4 separate regions of the Homo sapiens genome follow, and regions 1, 3 and 4 are each linked to region 2. Evidence: fine-mapped expression QTL. A gene starts in region 2. Each other region holds a variant in brackets. All regions are shown on one strand. Distances are from middle to middle. Region 1 overlaps PDE1A (phosphodiesterase 1A). Region 2 holds the start of PDE1A (phosphodiesterase 1A). Region 3 overlaps PDE1A (phosphodiesterase 1A). Region 4 has its middle 120 kb from the start of DNAJC10.

What was found. PIP is the estimated chance that this variant, and not a neighbour inherited with it, causes the effect.
Region 1: its variant is the best candidate, but not a certain one, in a credible set for the expression of PDE1A in thyroid (GTEx, PIP 0.74).
Region 3: its variant is the best candidate, but not a certain one, in a credible set for the expression of PDE1A in skeletal muscle (FUSION, PIP 0.71).
Region 4: its variant is the best candidate, but not a certain one, in a credible set for the expression of PDE1A in substantia nigra (Braineac2, PIP 0.67).

What each region holds. Positions count from the first base shown.
Region 1 is chr2:182,321,895-182,325,894 of GRCh38, reverse strand. All of the region lies in intron 1 of PDE1A (phosphodiesterase 1A), which reads left to right. Among named protein-coding and RNA genes, the nearest start is that of PDE1A, 100 kb to the left of the region's middle. The variant C/T (reference allele first, on the strand shown) is at 1,908.
Region 2 is chr2:182,425,225-182,429,224 of GRCh38, reverse strand. It overlaps PDE1A (phosphodiesterase 1A), which reads left to right and starts at 2,189. Exons shown (of 15, transcript NM_001363871.4): 1 at 2,189-2,647. The coding sequence starts at 2,595.
Region 3 is chr2:182,150,152-182,154,151 of GRCh38, reverse strand. All of the region lies in intron 13 of PDE1A (phosphodiesterase 1A), which reads left to right. Among named protein-coding and RNA genes, the nearest start is that of PPP1R1C, 170 kb to the right of the region's middle. The variant AG/G (reference allele first, on the strand shown) is at 1,739.
Region 4 is chr2:182,596,354-182,600,353 of GRCh38, reverse strand. It overlaps a transcript of PDE1A not described here. Among named protein-coding and RNA genes, the nearest start is that of DNAJC10, 120 kb to the left of the region's middle. The variant G/TG (reference allele first, on the strand shown) is at 1,792.

The DNA.
Region 1 (4,000 bases), 100 kb after region 2:
CAGGTTGGAGTGCAGTGGCGTGATCTCAACTCACTGCAATCTCTGCCTCCTGGGTTCAAGCAATTCTCCTGCTTCAGCCTCCTGAGTAGCTGAGAATACAGATGCACACCACCATGCCAGGCTAATTTTTTTGTATTTTAGTAGAGACGGGGTTTCACCATGTTGCCCAAGCTGGTTACGAACACCTGAGCTCAGGCAATCCACCTGCCTAGGCCTCCCAAACTACTGGGATTACAGACGTGAGGCAGCACGCCCAGCTGGGTTTTTATTTTGGTGTTGTTAAGTTGCAGGAGTTCTTTATGTATTCTGGATCTTAATCTCTTATTAAACATGTGATTTACAAATATTTTCTCCAATTCTTTGAGTTGCTTTTTTATTCTGTTGATAGTCTCCTTTGATGTACAAGTTTTTAATTATAATGAACTCAATTTTTTTCCATTGTTTTGTTTCATTACCCATGTTTTTGGTGTCATATCCAATAATTGTTGCCAAATCTGGTATCATAGAGCTTTTCCCTTATGTTTCCTTCTATGATTTTTTATAGTTTTAGCTTTTATGTTAGATCTTTGATTCATTTTTACTTTTTGTATATGTTGTATGGTAAAGCCACATATGCTTTTTAGTCACATTTAGTGTTATAGGTTGACAAAGTATCTATGTAACTTTAAATTAATTACTAACCAACAAGTCTATATTTTCCATTACTCTCATACTTGAGACTTATATCTTCCTATTTTTAATTGCTCAGCATGGCCTGAATTTATTACCATTTTTGCTCCTGTTGACTAGTCAAATGTATGTTTGTACCCTGGGATTTTAGCCCTGATGTGTGTTAATAGGATAGGAAAAAGGGCAGTGAATTCAAAGTCAAAATCTTGGACTGAATCCCAGAAATAACTAGTTCCATGACCCTGAGCAAATCATTGAACCTTTCTGAGCTGCAGGAGTAATAGTGTCTACCTCAGAATTTGTTGTGATAACCTTTGTGAAAGCAACTGGCACGTAATAAACACTTAAATGTTTCCTGAACTTATTGCTCAAGACTGAAGCACTGATTTTTTTGTGAGTGACTAACTTCAGCTGACTTGGTTTTGCATTGAGGGCAGTCAACTGTACAGTGAATGGAGGATGGAAGGGACAAACCGTCTATGCTGGGGGAACAAAAAAAGAACAAGTTCCAAGAGACATCACAAAGGAGTACAGACGTGGGATGAGCGTGTGCTACCCAATGTACCCACAGAACAGTGATTTATTTTCTTGTAGGTTTGGGGCAAAATATGAAACCTCAAGAAAAAGTAACATAACAGATTTGACCTCTAACATAGAGTATGCTTGGCATTAGGTGGAAAGTCTAAATATTTAAGATTACATAGAAGGTCTCTGATTTTCATCTGTTTTTAATTTTCTCATATACAGGTAATTATGACAACTAAGTAACTATGTTTTGGAATCCCCTAAACTTAGACATTAAGATGATTTTATGCACATCATTTTCATATTTAACAAAATTAGAATTTTAAAATATGCCTAAATTTGTATACATCGATTATCTTGTATGCAAGTTCCCAAAATGGAAATTTTAGTGGATTAGATGTTGAAGTCAAGATTCTTGTGAGGGAATTATGGTTGAATAGATTCTCCTCCCTGTTCTCTAATCACTGAGATATAGAACCGTTAGTATTATCCCCTCCTCAACGAAACTGAAATAATACTTCTTTTCCTATCTCCCTTATAGTAATATATTGAGATTCAAATGAAATGAAGCATATAAGCTTGTAATGAATAATTTTTCCAGGCATCTTGCTAGGAAATAAACAGTAAAAATTAATAGCACCACCTATATTTATGGGTCTGTCTTTCACTCTCCTATGGTTCTTAAAGCAGAAATGTCTTCCCTACTGGTGTAG[C/T]GAGTCTCTGATTGATTCCCTGGCCCACTGAGAAAATCTATGCTGTGCCTGAAAAGGCTGCACAGCCCTACTGCAATGTCAGGCCCTACAGTTGTGCCTTGGATGGTGTGGCAACACACTGACACGCTGGTCTGCTCTACCAGGGTGTGGGGCTTCTGGTGGAAATCCCTTGGAAGCTGGTACAGTCTCACACCTCTGGCAGAAACAGGGTGCCTCAGAGTTCGTGAGATGTAATACTTGCGTTACTATCCTCCTTGTGTTCCTGGGGGCTTCCTGCCCTATTCATTGACGATAGCCAGACCTACCTCTCCAGACAAGGACCCTCCAAGCAGTGCTAATGCTGAAGATGGATTTTTTCAGCGCTCCTCCGACAGGCACTTAAATCTTCCAAAGAATTTCCCCTGCCTCCAAGAAGTTGAAAGAAACTTTTGGCTCTTAACTGGTAAACATTAGGGCAGGGGTAGAGATGTTTCTTAAAAATTCATTTTTTTCTTGTCTGTCTCCAGCCTATGTTCAACTTCCTAATAGTCTCTCTCTTCCCTCTTAGAGAAAACATTCCTTATTATAGTTATTACTTCTCTAATGAAGAACTTCTCTTTAGAACTCTTGTGACTGAGTCCCATTGATAGAAATAGCTAATCTCTTATTTGGAGAGAAGAAATGGGAGTTTTTTGTTTGTCTGTTTTCATTTCCATAAATTTACAAAATATATCGAACAGCATTGACAATAAGCCACAATTATTAGTCACAAAGAAGAGATAAACCGGGTATGTTTTTCTGTCCTTTATATATATGTAGTTGTTTTCCATTGCTTTAATTGGTTTATAAGTTCAAAGGCTTCTATAAAGCCATTTATTTTAGATTTATTTGTTCAAGCTCATAAGGTTAAAATAACATTTGTTTTATTTTGTAATAAGTCAGCAGACAACTTTTTATGAGTCTTACAAGATGTAGAATAGTTATATTATGTATAACACTCAGAATATTGAGTATTCTAAAACATTCAGATAAGAACTCATTTTGTAGGAACTAAGCATAGTTTAACAATCAACTAACATGTAATTAAGATATTTTCAAGAAATATACTCTCTGATTTTATTTCTGGGTCTACAGCCTAGTTATTTATTTATTTTTGCGAAATCATTTAACGTATCTACTTTATCATTTATTTTCTAAAATAAAAAGAATATAGTTTCACCTATCTGTATCACTGGAGTGTTCTACAAATTCTTTTACTAAACTTTATAAAAATGGTGAGTGTCTTAAGTAAAAAGCCCATCAAGATAAAAATAAAAACTATTGGTGAATCACATAACTTTTTAATTGTCTAACAGAGTCTGCCTCATGAGAAGTGAATTCAGCTTCTGTGTTAGTTTATTTTCATACTGCTATGAAGAAACTTCTGAGACTGGGTAATTTATAAAGAAAAAGAGGTTTAATGGACTCACAGTTCCACATGGCTTGGCAGAGGTAAAAGAGGAGCAAAGGCACATCTTACATGGCGGCAGGCAAGAGGGCATGTGCAGGGGAACTGCCCTTTATAAAACCATCAGATCTCTTGAGACATATTCATTATCATGAGAAGAGTACAGGAAAAACCCACTTCCATGATTCAATTACCTCCCACTGGGTCCCTCCCACAACACGTGGGGATTATGGGAGCTACAATTCGAGATGAGATTTGGGTAGGGACAAAGCCAAACCATATCAGCTTCTAATAGTCTGGAATCTATGAAGTCTCGAGTTGATTCTGTGGCTTACTATGTGCCCAACACCATATTAAGAAATTTTCATACAATATTGAATTCAATCCTGGTGATTCTTCTCTTATCTCTTTTTATAAAAGAGAAGACAGAGGTTTAGAAAGAAAATATAATTTGCCCAAGATCACACAACTTGTAAGTAGGAGAGAAGGAATTCAAAGTGCAACGTGACTTTGGAGCTCTTATTTCCAACGATTAGGGACAGAACACCACACTGTCCTTCTAAAGGTAATTACCTTGAAATTTTAAATCCAGAGTAAAACATCATTTCCTAGAATCCTAGAATGGTGAAGCTGGAAGAGAAATTAAAATAATATCTAGCCTGGTGGT
Region 2 (4,000 bases):
AATAAAAACATTTAAGAAATATATATTTTTCTTTGTGCCCAGTGAATATTTAATTTACTGGTATCATCTGAATGCTTTATAGGGTCTCAGATTGGTTTTAAATATAGTGCTTTCCATAAAGTGAATCTAAACTTTCTAACTTAATCACAGAAAGAAAAAAGAATATAAACCTAAGGTAATGAAGTATGTTATGGATTTCCTATGATTAACAACTTTCAGATTCTTCAGCTGGTAATCAAGCCTTTGGACTTCAAGCTATATTTCATACTTGCTTGCCGTTTGAACTGTACCTTGGCTAGATGTTTATTAGTATTTATGTTGAGTTCCCTCCATTGTGTTCATGTAGAAATTGTCTCACATTTCCAATTCAAAAGAAGACAAAATGAAAGTTAATTTTTAAAAGTTGATGGGCTTATTATTTTCTTGAATTTTCCCTCAGGAGGAAGATTTATGCTATATTAATGGTAATATAGGTAAACCATGACTACAGAAATTGAATGCTACCCACAAACGCAAAATCCCTCCCAGAAGACCTGTACAATGTGTTATTTCTTATGTGCTTTCCTAAATACAAAGAAAGCCAAAGCATATGGTAATAATAAAGCATCTGCTTCAAAGATCTGTATCTAAGTTTGTTTATACATGGTCAGTATATTTAACTGCTGTATAGCACACATGTGAATTTATCATTGGTACTTATTGATCATAAAGAGAACAGTGACATAGATGTCACTACATAACTATGTAATATCTATATAAATATGTTATACATAATATAAAATCATCTTTTTATTTATAGCTTCCTTATTTATTTATAACAGTACATAATAAGTGTGTAGTTTTTGAAGTATCAGGCATCATAACTTCTATGGCAGTTTCTTTGCAAGAAGCAGGCGAATCAGATTTAGAAATAACATGATAGTACCATTAAAGCTGGAAAGAAATATAGAATTCAATTAATATTATAATTTCATTTTACAAACAAGAAAATGGTCTCAGACAGGTCAAGAAATTTGCCCACAGTGGCCCGGCATATTTGCAATAGAACTAGGACTAGAACCCATTTATTTTATTTTTAGTTCAATGCTCTCATAATGATTACATTTCCTAGTTTGGATTAGAACGGCTCGATAAAATCCATGATTCCCTTATAACTCTCTTCTCCTTCCTTATCTCTCCTCAGGGAGGAAAATAAAAAGGTGATCTTTCTCCCTGGAAGTATTTGGAGAGTGCCAATAACTACAGATAGTATCCTCCTTTGTGACATTTGATCTTTATTTTTATGGATCATTCAACTAAAGGCATGCACGTTACTCATTTTTCCCTTTTTATTACATGTATATATTAAAAACATTCTAATCATGCTTTGAAATGATTTAGTTTATTACAAATCTCTGACCTGGAATCTTATGACATTATTGACTGAATAGGAACTTTGTTAGTGATTCAGATACAGGAAGGTCTCCAAAATAAGTTACATTAAAATACGAGCATTCCCTTTATCTGGAGCTAGAATAAGAGTTCCCGCAGTGTAAATCTGTCTTCTAAAAGAAAACAATTTTTAATATCATTTATTTTCAGCTGTTCACAAATTCTTTTATACCTTCTTTTCTTTCCTTTTACTTTTATAAATCCAAATTTCATCACATAATATATAAACCATAGGCTCCCAGGCACTTTGGAGGGGCTTTTTGTTAAAAAAAAGCATGTGGATGTGTGTGTGTGTTTCCATCTCTTTTTTGCAAGAGATGTTTCCTCTTAGTTGGAAACCACATTTGGGTACAGACATCTGGGTATAATGTCACCAGTAGAAATTAGCAATTTTTGTTTTTCTAACTTTTGTAGCTCTGGTCAGCTTCGCATGGGCTTCTATCAGTTGATATGGCATCTTCAACTTCAGCCAAGAGGAGGTTATTAGATTATAAGTGCTAAAAATGATGAGTCGTCTCCACACTTCAGCCAGCATGAATACAAGCAAGATTGTAAAATAATTATAATCTGAAGCAGAGCCAGCCATGCAACCCGAGCCTATCTTTCTTCATTAATTTGTATACAGTTCTTATTTTAAGAGAACAAACTTTCAGAGGGTACTCACATGGGGCTGCTGAACCAGCTGTACAACTTTTATTTTGAAGAAAAAAAGTTGAGCCTCAGAACAGTCTGTTTTAAAGACAGGGAGGGACTTAGCCTTTCGGAGCTTGACCAGCATGTGGAAGGAGAGCTCTCATGGCTGCAATAACTTAGGGAGTTCCTACCTGGATGACACTGGGGTAGGAAGTTTTCTGTTTGTTTTGTTCTGTTTCGGAGGGTCCCGTGCACTTCTCTTGCCTGGATCAACGTGACTCTTGGTGGTTTTTGCACACCCTGCTCTGTGGGGGAGTGCCCCAACGTGCCTGTCTTATGTGGCCTCTATGGACACACTGCTCAGCTGGCAGAGAACAGGGAAGTTTTCTCCCAGCACCCAAAAAGAGAAAGAGGAAACTACTTTTTCTTTCTGGGCTCCTTGCAGCACAATAGATCAGGATAAGCTTCCACATTTCCTCTCTGGAGTTTCTGGAGTGGTTTCCAGGAAGAAGTTAAACCTTCACCTTTAAATGGATGACCATGTCACAATCAGGAAGAAACATCTCCAAAGACCCATCTTTAGGTAAGTAATGCTACATCGCAGGTGGCTCTAGGGCTGTCAGGAACAATAGTTTCTCCCTTCATCCTTAATTTGGGGATTCTGCCACTAAGCTACAGCAGAGCAATCAAGAGTGCTTAAAGTTTAACTTCAGGCATACTGAGGGAGCCTTTTTGTTTTCTGTTTTCTGAAACTTTGTGCACAAACTCTTATCAACTCCTGAAAATACATTTTACAAAATCTTAACTATTCAAACACATAAGTGACATAGTACTGGAAAAACTTTGGAAACGTTATGCAATCTCTAGCTGTTTCTGTAGGCTGTTGCACAGCCCTCTAAATAGGAAACGTTGTGCTTAGTTCTTTCAACTGATTACAGGCAAGGGCAGTGTTTCAGTGCTGTGAATACTACACCTTTCTGGAGTGAAGTGTCGGGAGATAAATTTGAACTTGATAGCTACTTTACTAGAGTGCACATTTTACAGCTCGCTCAGGAATATCAGACCAGCAGTTAAAGAAACAACAGGGTGATAGGAAAAATTTTACACTGTGGTGGAATCTGTGACCAGGCAAAATGTAGATACAGTATAATGGATTGAGCTAAAGTTTAATTTTGGAGGGAGGTACACCCTTTCTTTAAGAAAGCAGCTGTTTCTTCATTGACTCTTTAATTCTGGATTCTTTAGTTACCTATTATGTACTTTAGAATTTAAAATAAAAAATAATTTAAAAGTATCTAGAAATTGAACCCTATTTTTGCCCCTCAAAACAGAAGATTTTTAAGAAAGTCAGTTATATATCAGTTTTGTCTTTCCACAAAATAATATTCTAGATAAAGCAGAGATACTACATGTTAGCAATGTTAAGGTCAAGTTGCAACCACTGGTTTTTGTCTGGAATTAAATACAGGATGATAAAACGTATGAGCAAAATTTCTCTGTGGTTTCTACATAATGAATGAGTAGACCTCGAGGAATATAATTATATAAAATGTGGCCATTTTTACTGATTAAACATCATTACTGAATTATTAATAGCAACATTATACCTTTGTAATGCTTAAAACAAGATGTTAGCTTGAATCTGTTTTAAAGTCTTCCTTTGAACATAAATTATATTTAAATTCATATATATGGATTTAATATTACTATCCCCCTCTACTTAAATATGTTTTTGTGTCTTATGCAATGATGTTGGTAAATAACCAAAAATCTAAAATGACCCCCAAAATATATTCACCTACCATATTTCCTAAAAAGTTCTTCCAATTGTATGTAGTATCTATATTCTCCCAAGTGCACGTGCGACTTCAAAAAGGTATGATAGTTGCCCAGATGATTCTAAACTCAACACCAGTGAGGCACAACTCACAGAGGG
Region 3 (4,000 bases), 280 kb after region 2:
ATCCAGCTTTACAAAGAAAACTCAATCAACCAGAATAGTTTATTCAGATTATTTAAAGGAAAGCCAAAATGTTTGCATCATTTTACAGATTATTTTTTCCAAGTTTTAGCTTTTGAAACTCACTTAGGTAGATAGTTAAAATCAATATTCTACAGTTAATTTGTCCTATTTATAAAGATAAAGAATATGTGAATTTTTGGCATTTCTCTCACACTCAAGTGCAGCCATCACCCGAATAGTGTACATTATACCCATTAAGTAATTTCTCATCCCTTACCTGCCTCCAAACCTCCTACCCTTCAGTATCTCCAACATCAGACTCAATTTTCACCCCATTTTTCATCCTAATTGAGAAATCAGAGCAGCCCCATGTTGCCTTTCACATCAACTTGCCTCTACGAGCCAAATCTGATCATTTCCATGGCTGATTCCTGCTACTCTTTACAAGAGATAAAGTGTGATTTGAATGGTCTTAACTTCACCACTCCAGAGCTTCTCTCTCCATTGCCACCCCCAACTTCTCTACCTTCAATCAATGCCTGTGCATTCTTATCATCTCCCTGCTCTCAGAGCCTGCTTTCTTTTAAGAAGATCTGCGATTCAGTCACAAAGTTCCCTTCTAGGAATAATAACATTTTAATAGGTGTCAGAGCCTTCCTCTAAAAGAATGACACTCTGATGGAGAAATAATTGCTTCAACCAGTGGGTAGGAGCTCACAGTAGTTTTCTCAGCTGGGCTTCATTTCTTTCCTGGCATATCATTTTTCTTTTCAACCCTCTGCCTTTGCTCAGGCTCCACCGTACCTCCTCATCCCTTCACTAACAGCATACTCCTACCTGTGTGCCAACAAAACATATACAACCTTCAGACCCAATTTTAGAAAACTCTTTCAAGGAGCCAGCTGAACTACCTCCCACATTGTTAAACTATTTCAGTGTAACTTAAACACTAAGATTTCTGGCTATCTGACAAGGTATTAGCTTCCCCAAGTTGAGTATAATTTCACTGATTTGCAGATGAATATACATATAAATTTTTCATTTTCCGTAGATCACCTGTAAAACTCTCTACATATCTAGATGCCTAGCACATATGCATTGGGTGTAAGTCTAAAGCTTGCTAAAGTAAATTGTTGTATTTTCCTCAAAATCAGATGTTTCTGTTTTTCTTTAATGAACCAATACATAATTTACCTATTTCTTGATTTGTGTCTTATGTAACACTTTAAGGTATTACTTGCTCTAATTTTACAGGGTTGGAGCTAGCACATTTTGGAATTAAGTGGAATTTTGTTTTCACAGCCTTCTTTTTCTTCTGCCTAGTGTGCAGTCCTGTCTTCTCTTACTGTTGCCTTCACGCATACTGCAAAGTAAACGAACACATACAACTGCTTCTTCTCCAAATGCATTAAAATTAAGAGGAAAAAAATAGGCTGGGCACAGTGGCTCACACCTGTAATCCCAGCACTTTGGGAGGCTGAGGCGGGTGGATCACCTGAGGTCAGGAGTTCAAGACCAGCCTGGCCAACATGGCGAAACCCCGTCTCTACTAAAAATACAAAAATTAGCTGGGCCTGGTGGCAGGTACCTGTAATCCCAGCTACTTGGGAGGGTGAGGCAGGAGAATCACTTGAACCTGGGAGGCAGAGGTTGCAGTGAGCCAAGATGATGCCATTGCACTCCAGCCTGGGCAACAAGAGCGAGACTCCATCTCAAAAAAAAAAAAAAAAAAAAAAAA[AG/G]AGGAAAAAAATAGGGAAAGTATTTCCCCTGGTATTAAAATAGATTTCTTTATCCCAGCATGTAAGGCAAACTACATTATATGGATGCCAAAACACCAATTAAAATCAGAATATCTGATTTATCCTACATTACATTTTTCCAATGACTGTAACTTTAATCTTTGATCACCAATTTATTCTAGTTATCTGCAACATAAACTATATAAATGGTCTAAAAGTAAAGCTGAAGCAACCTAGAGATATGCCTAAGGAAATACTATTATACATAGCAAAGGTAATATTCTTCTTATGAAAAAATAAGAATGCAGTGTTACTCAGAGCTAATATTTCTGTTGAAAAGACTGCACAAACCAATTTTGTGGTATTTTTCAAACACCATTTATTATTGCTGTTAAATTTAAAAAATTAACTGGGGCATTGCTCTGAGGAATAGCTTGTGATTCTGTCTCCCAAATTCACCTAGGCTATTTTGCGTTGGAATAGTCAGCTACCCCTCTAATCATGTCTTTCTCATCTCTAAAATGAGAATCATAATGATGATTTTCCCACTTACATGCAGGGATTGTTGGGCTAGATAAGTCAAAAATAACGAGTGCAAAATAAGCTATTAAATCATTTTGTTTTTTATATCTACATGAGAAATGATCTTTTAATTATGGATTTGAGGTATTAGAAAAATACAAAAAGAACAACAAATTTATTTCTGTGGTAGGAAAATTACTATTGAGAACAAAACTAATTTTTAAAGGAGTATATTTAAAGTCTATTTAAAGAAAAATATTAGGTAAGCGAGAGGACAGGTGGCATATGAATACAGCAGAATTGGTGAGGGTAGGTTACTCATGATTGTAGCTTGGGAAACAGTCAAACTAGAGGCCAAGATTCTGGTTGTCCTTTGTCAGAGGATCCAGCCCCTTGCTGGCTTTAAGACTTTGGGCAGATAGTTTTCAAGCTATGTCTCAGCTTCCACAATTGTTCAACCTTACTTTATAAGATTGCTGTGAGGGGGGCAGGGCGTGGTGGCTCACACCTGTAATCCCAGCACTTTGGGAGGCCAAGGCAGGTGGATCACCTGAAGGTCAGGAGTTCAAGACCAGCTTGGCCAAAATGGTGAAACCTGTGTCTATGAAAAATGCAAAAAAACAAAAAACAAAAAAATTAGCTGGGTGTGGTGGCAGATGCCTATAGTCCCAGCTACTTGAGAGGCTGAAGCAGGAGAATCGCTTGAACCCAGGAAGCGGAGGTTGCAATGGGCTGAGATTGCACCATTGCACTCCAGCCTGGACAACAAGAGCAAAACTTTGTCTCAAAAAATAATAATAATAAGTTTGCTGTGAGGATTCAGGGAAGTGAGGTGAGTGAAGCACTTAGAATAGTGTCTGCCACCTAGTTGGTGTTCACAAAGTATTGATTATTATTGGTATATTTTCAATTGTATAATAATTTATCCTAACAGGTTATTTCTCAGATAGTTAGTGAGACCCTGACTGGAGGACAAAAGTCTCTAATATCCACTTGATAGTGTGTTTGGTGTAATTCCCTGCAAGTCTTATTCACAGCACCATGAGTCTAACACATTATGATTCTAATATGGTAAAAGTGAGCTTAAATTGCAATCTAAAAGCCTAGATTAGCTAAATTTAGAGGATTTCTGTTGGTTTTGGTAAGTCTGTCTCTCCTATAACAACTATCCCCTCCCTGCTCCTTGAAGAATTGAGACTCTATTTACAAACCAAACCCATAAAATTTCTATCATTTTACAAATTATTTTGTTAGATTTGAACTTTTGAAACTGGTTGAGATGAACACCTAAAACTCTTTGAACTGAACAGAATTATTGATGTTCCTTTATTTTCACTGTTTTTCCTGGCTGACAAACAAGTTTATATGCAATTTCTTTGAACAGACCACTTGCATTCATTCCTAATGAGCAGCTTTCTATATATATGACATTGCAAATCCTTTCAGTAAGATGAAATTCAAAAGTGACGTTACTGGTCTTCTTGAAGTACCAGTGAATTAAAAGCCAACCGTCTTGACTTCAGGTTATCTATTTATGATCTGCATTGTAGAAAGTCAACCGATTATTCTGGACCTATTTCTTGCCTGAAAAATGAAGTTAGACTAGATCAAGTTTTAATCCAGAGTTATATAGAGAGGGTCAGAATACTTAGAGAGGGATTTCTTTTTACTAGTCTTTAACTGAAATTTATCATTCTCCTCATTTGTAGGAAAGAATACGCATCAACATTTATGGTATT
Region 4 (4,000 bases), 170 kb before region 2:
TTTCTAAACAACTTACAATAATGTTGAGTACTCTCTATGGCTCCTCTGTTGTTGAAAATTGTGTAGCAAGCAACCTGAAAAAAACCTTTCAGAAAATGAATATTCTGCAACAGATGGTACAGAAAGAGAAATGCGTTGATGATGACAAAAAAAGCAGGAGCATTTTGAAATAGCATTACTTATTTTTTTAATAATCAGCTCTTATAAAACTACCCAATTTTATTTTCAAAACCTAAGAGAACTTTGCTGTAGAGTGTTCAAATCTAATTAACAATGATGGAAACTCTAAAACCTGAAAATTTTTACTTAAGGATTTATTTTTCTCCTGGGAGTAGAGTAGGATTGTGCTCCTAGACCAGGCTTCAAGGGACTTTCCTGTCATGTTGAAGTAGCAACCTGAAGATCTGGAGGTGGAATATGGGATTTTACTTTTATGATTGCAATGGAGGGAGTAGAGTCTAGAGATCTGGTACATGTAATTATTTAGCAATCTAATCAGATATTACATTTGGGTCAATAACTGGCATAATTAAACCTCTCTGATGCCTATAGCACAGGGATATGTGCTTGGGTTGGCTTGTCTGATAAAAGATGGGCCATCCAGTTAAAATTAAGTTTCAGATAGGCAACAAATAATTTTTTTTAATAGTAAAAGGATGTCCTATTCATCTGAAATTCAAATCTAGTGGGGGCATTCTGTATTTTTGTTATTTCTGAAAATTTTATCAGTTTAAAGAATATAAAGCTTAAAAGCCAGAACATACATAAGAAATAATAACACAGAGAAGCACATTGTGGTGGATTTAAAACATATCCACAAGTTCTCTGGCACTCCATTGAGAGGTGGGATGTATGTCCTTTCTTTTAAATCTGATCGGATTTAATGATTCACTTGTAACCAGTAGATGGAGAGGAAATGCCTGCATAGCTATGGAGGCTGGGTCATAAAAGGCATTGTAGCTTCTGTCTTGCTTTTGCAGATGAGCGTCCAGGAAAGAAAAAGACTACCCTAAGGCCACCATGGTATAAGGGAGCCCAGGCCACATGGAGAGCTCAAGCAGCTGCTTTAGTTGACAGCCCCAGCTCAAGTCCCACTGAGGCAGAGCCAGGATCCACCACCAGTCATGGGAGCAGGCACCCATAGCAGGGAAAAGCCAGGCAGTGGGAGCAGTCACTTCTGAGCCTGTGAGGGTAGGGGGGGCCTTCCTGGGCTCCCAAGAGTGCAGGATGCATGAGTCTGCAGCCATGGTTTGGGTAGTTGCAGCGACACCTGCGGAGCTCCTGCCCCAACTCAGAAGGGGCAGAGCTCTCACTGGCTCCATGGAGCATGAAGCCCCAGCCGTGTTTCTCTGCTGCAGCCAGCGTGATGGCAGCGGTTGTGCTGTCTGGAGAACTCCAGCCTCCATCCCATGAGTAATTCCCTGCAGAAGTCCAGGCACTGTGGAGCACAGATAAGCTGTGTGCTATCTTAATTCTTGACCTACAGAATCCAGGAGCATAGTAAAGTGGTTTTAAGCCACAAAGTTTTGTGGTTATTTGTTACGCAGTAATAGTAACTGTAATACACATGCTCAGTATAAAGTGAATGGTTAAAATAATCAGTGGTGCAGGAGCTTAGTGGAAGAAGGAGTCATCAGAGGCTTTGGTAGGGTGAGGATTCCCCTACTCTGCCCTGCCCCCACACTCGAAAGGCAGAGCTTGATAGGGAGTATAGAACATGGGAAATGAGAAAGGGAGAGCGTGAAAGCAGAATTAATGGCAAAGATCCTTGTTTTTGTTTTTTTTTTTTTT[G/TG]AGACAGAGTTGCGCTCCATCACGCAGGCTGGAGTGCGTTGCAGCTCACTGCAACCTCCGCCTCCCAGATTCAAGTGATTCTCATGCCTCAGCCTCCCAAGTATCTGGGATTACAGGTGCCCGCCACCATGCCTAGCTAATTTTTGGATTTTTAGTAGAGACAGGGTTTCCCCATGTTGGCCAGGCTGGTCTTGAACTCCTGGCCTTAGGTGATCCCTCCGCCTCGGCCTCCCAATATGCTGGAATTACAGGCGTGATCCACTGTGCCCGGTTGAGAACCTTGTTCTTTTTCCTTTACAATTTTCTTCTTAGGATAATTGCAATTTAAAGTAAATCAGCTTGCAGAAGCACTGGAAAAAAGATTAAGGGTTGAACAGAAGAAGGAATAAATTAAACTCCCATTTTAATTTCTGGGCTATGTTTCTGAGCATTTGAAGATGAAGCTGTTATGGCTGTGCATAGGACTTAATGGTCTTTAGGGAGCCTGATAAACTGAGAAACAGATTGCAGTAATTTTGCATTGGTGACCCAGTAGGCTGACTTAGTCGCTTAAATTTCACATTTCTTTAACATGCTGAAACAAGGAAATTTTAAAGTGTTCTAAAAGAACAGAAAAGTTTCATGGGAGAACAGCAATTTGGTGAAAAGAGGATTTTCTTAACGCCTCAGTGCCTTTTGAGAAGTCTCCAAACTGCTGAATGACCAAAGATAAATGCAAAAGAAACTATGTTATCTCTATTTGTGGAAGGATTGTTTCTGAGCTTCACCATCCGCAGTTGTTGTAGGGAAGATATTGAAGGTTGCGTCATTTTCCCTGGGGACTTGACAATGCCTGAAAAGTTTATAATTCAAAGTATGTCTTATATTACTCAAAATAAAGTTAGCATCTAGAGATTTCTATTTACATGTGAAAAAGTACACTTCTTAATTTAGAAGTGGGCTTTGGGCAAAATTACGAGGTGGGTATTGTGGAAACGGTCTCTCTACCCCTGTATTCTTTACTTTCTTTACTCCCTTTCCCCCACACCTCTCAGGACCCTCCCAGGACCCCTCAGCTCTCATGCCCTGTCCTGGCCCACCAGTTCCTCTCTTCCTCTGCAATAGCCTGCAAGCGCTGGCTTCTCTGTTTCCTCCAGCCTTGCCTTTGAACCTATTGATGGCTCCTTCACATGCACCATTCAGATATATTTCCCCTTAGTGAGGCATAGCAACCACATAGTCTGTATCTTCCAGAATAAGTCATATACCTATCCTGGTACATTCCATTGTCTCCATGAATTAAAATTCCTCAGCAATTCTAAGATTTTGATGTCAAATTCATTTCTCATAATTGCTCTTAAGTCTGAAACTCCAAATCATTTTTAGATAATGTGTTTAGATTTAAAAAAAAAATTTTTTTTTTTTAATTTTTGAGATGGGGTCTCACTCTGTTGCCCAGGCTGGAATGCAGTGGCATGATCATGGCTCACCTCAGCCTCAACCTCCAGGCTCAGGTGATCTTCCCACCTCAGCCTCTTGAGCAGCTGGGACTGCAGGCATTCAACACTGTGCCCACCTAATTTTTGTATTTTTAATAGAGACGGGGTTTGCCATGTTGCCCAGGCTGGACTCAAATTCCTGGGCTCTACAGATTCACCTGCCTCAGCCTCCCAAAGTGCTAGGATTACAGGTATGAGCCATTGCGCCTGGCAGTGTGTTTAGATTCTTTATATGAAAGTTCTATTCTTCACACCTCATTGCTTCTATTTTTTAAAAATCAGCTTTCTGGTTACTCTACAGCTTTCATTGTAGCTGTTGATTCTTGCCTTACTCTCTTTGTCCTTGCCCAAATTCTTGCATTTTTCCCATCCATCCATCCATCCATCCATCCATCCATCCATCCAGTTTATTATTCATGCAGACAGTTCATATTATACAGTAGCCTCATAGTTACTGATGGCCCTCAACTTTGATAGCCTTATTTGTTTTTCAATGGAGTTACCTGCACATAGTGAATATTATGTTAAAGATATAAAAGTATTTAAAGTATAAACCAATTATTGAAGAGTATCGCCACTTTGGTAACAGGATCAGTAGCTCAAATTTCACTGGCTTTCCTTCTCCCCTTGCGATGTGGCTGGCACTTTTAAGACTCTGCAAATTCTCACCTAAGTCTTCAGCCTCCCTGGGGGAAGGTATGTCTCATGTGTGCCTCAGAAGAGTCTGTGGG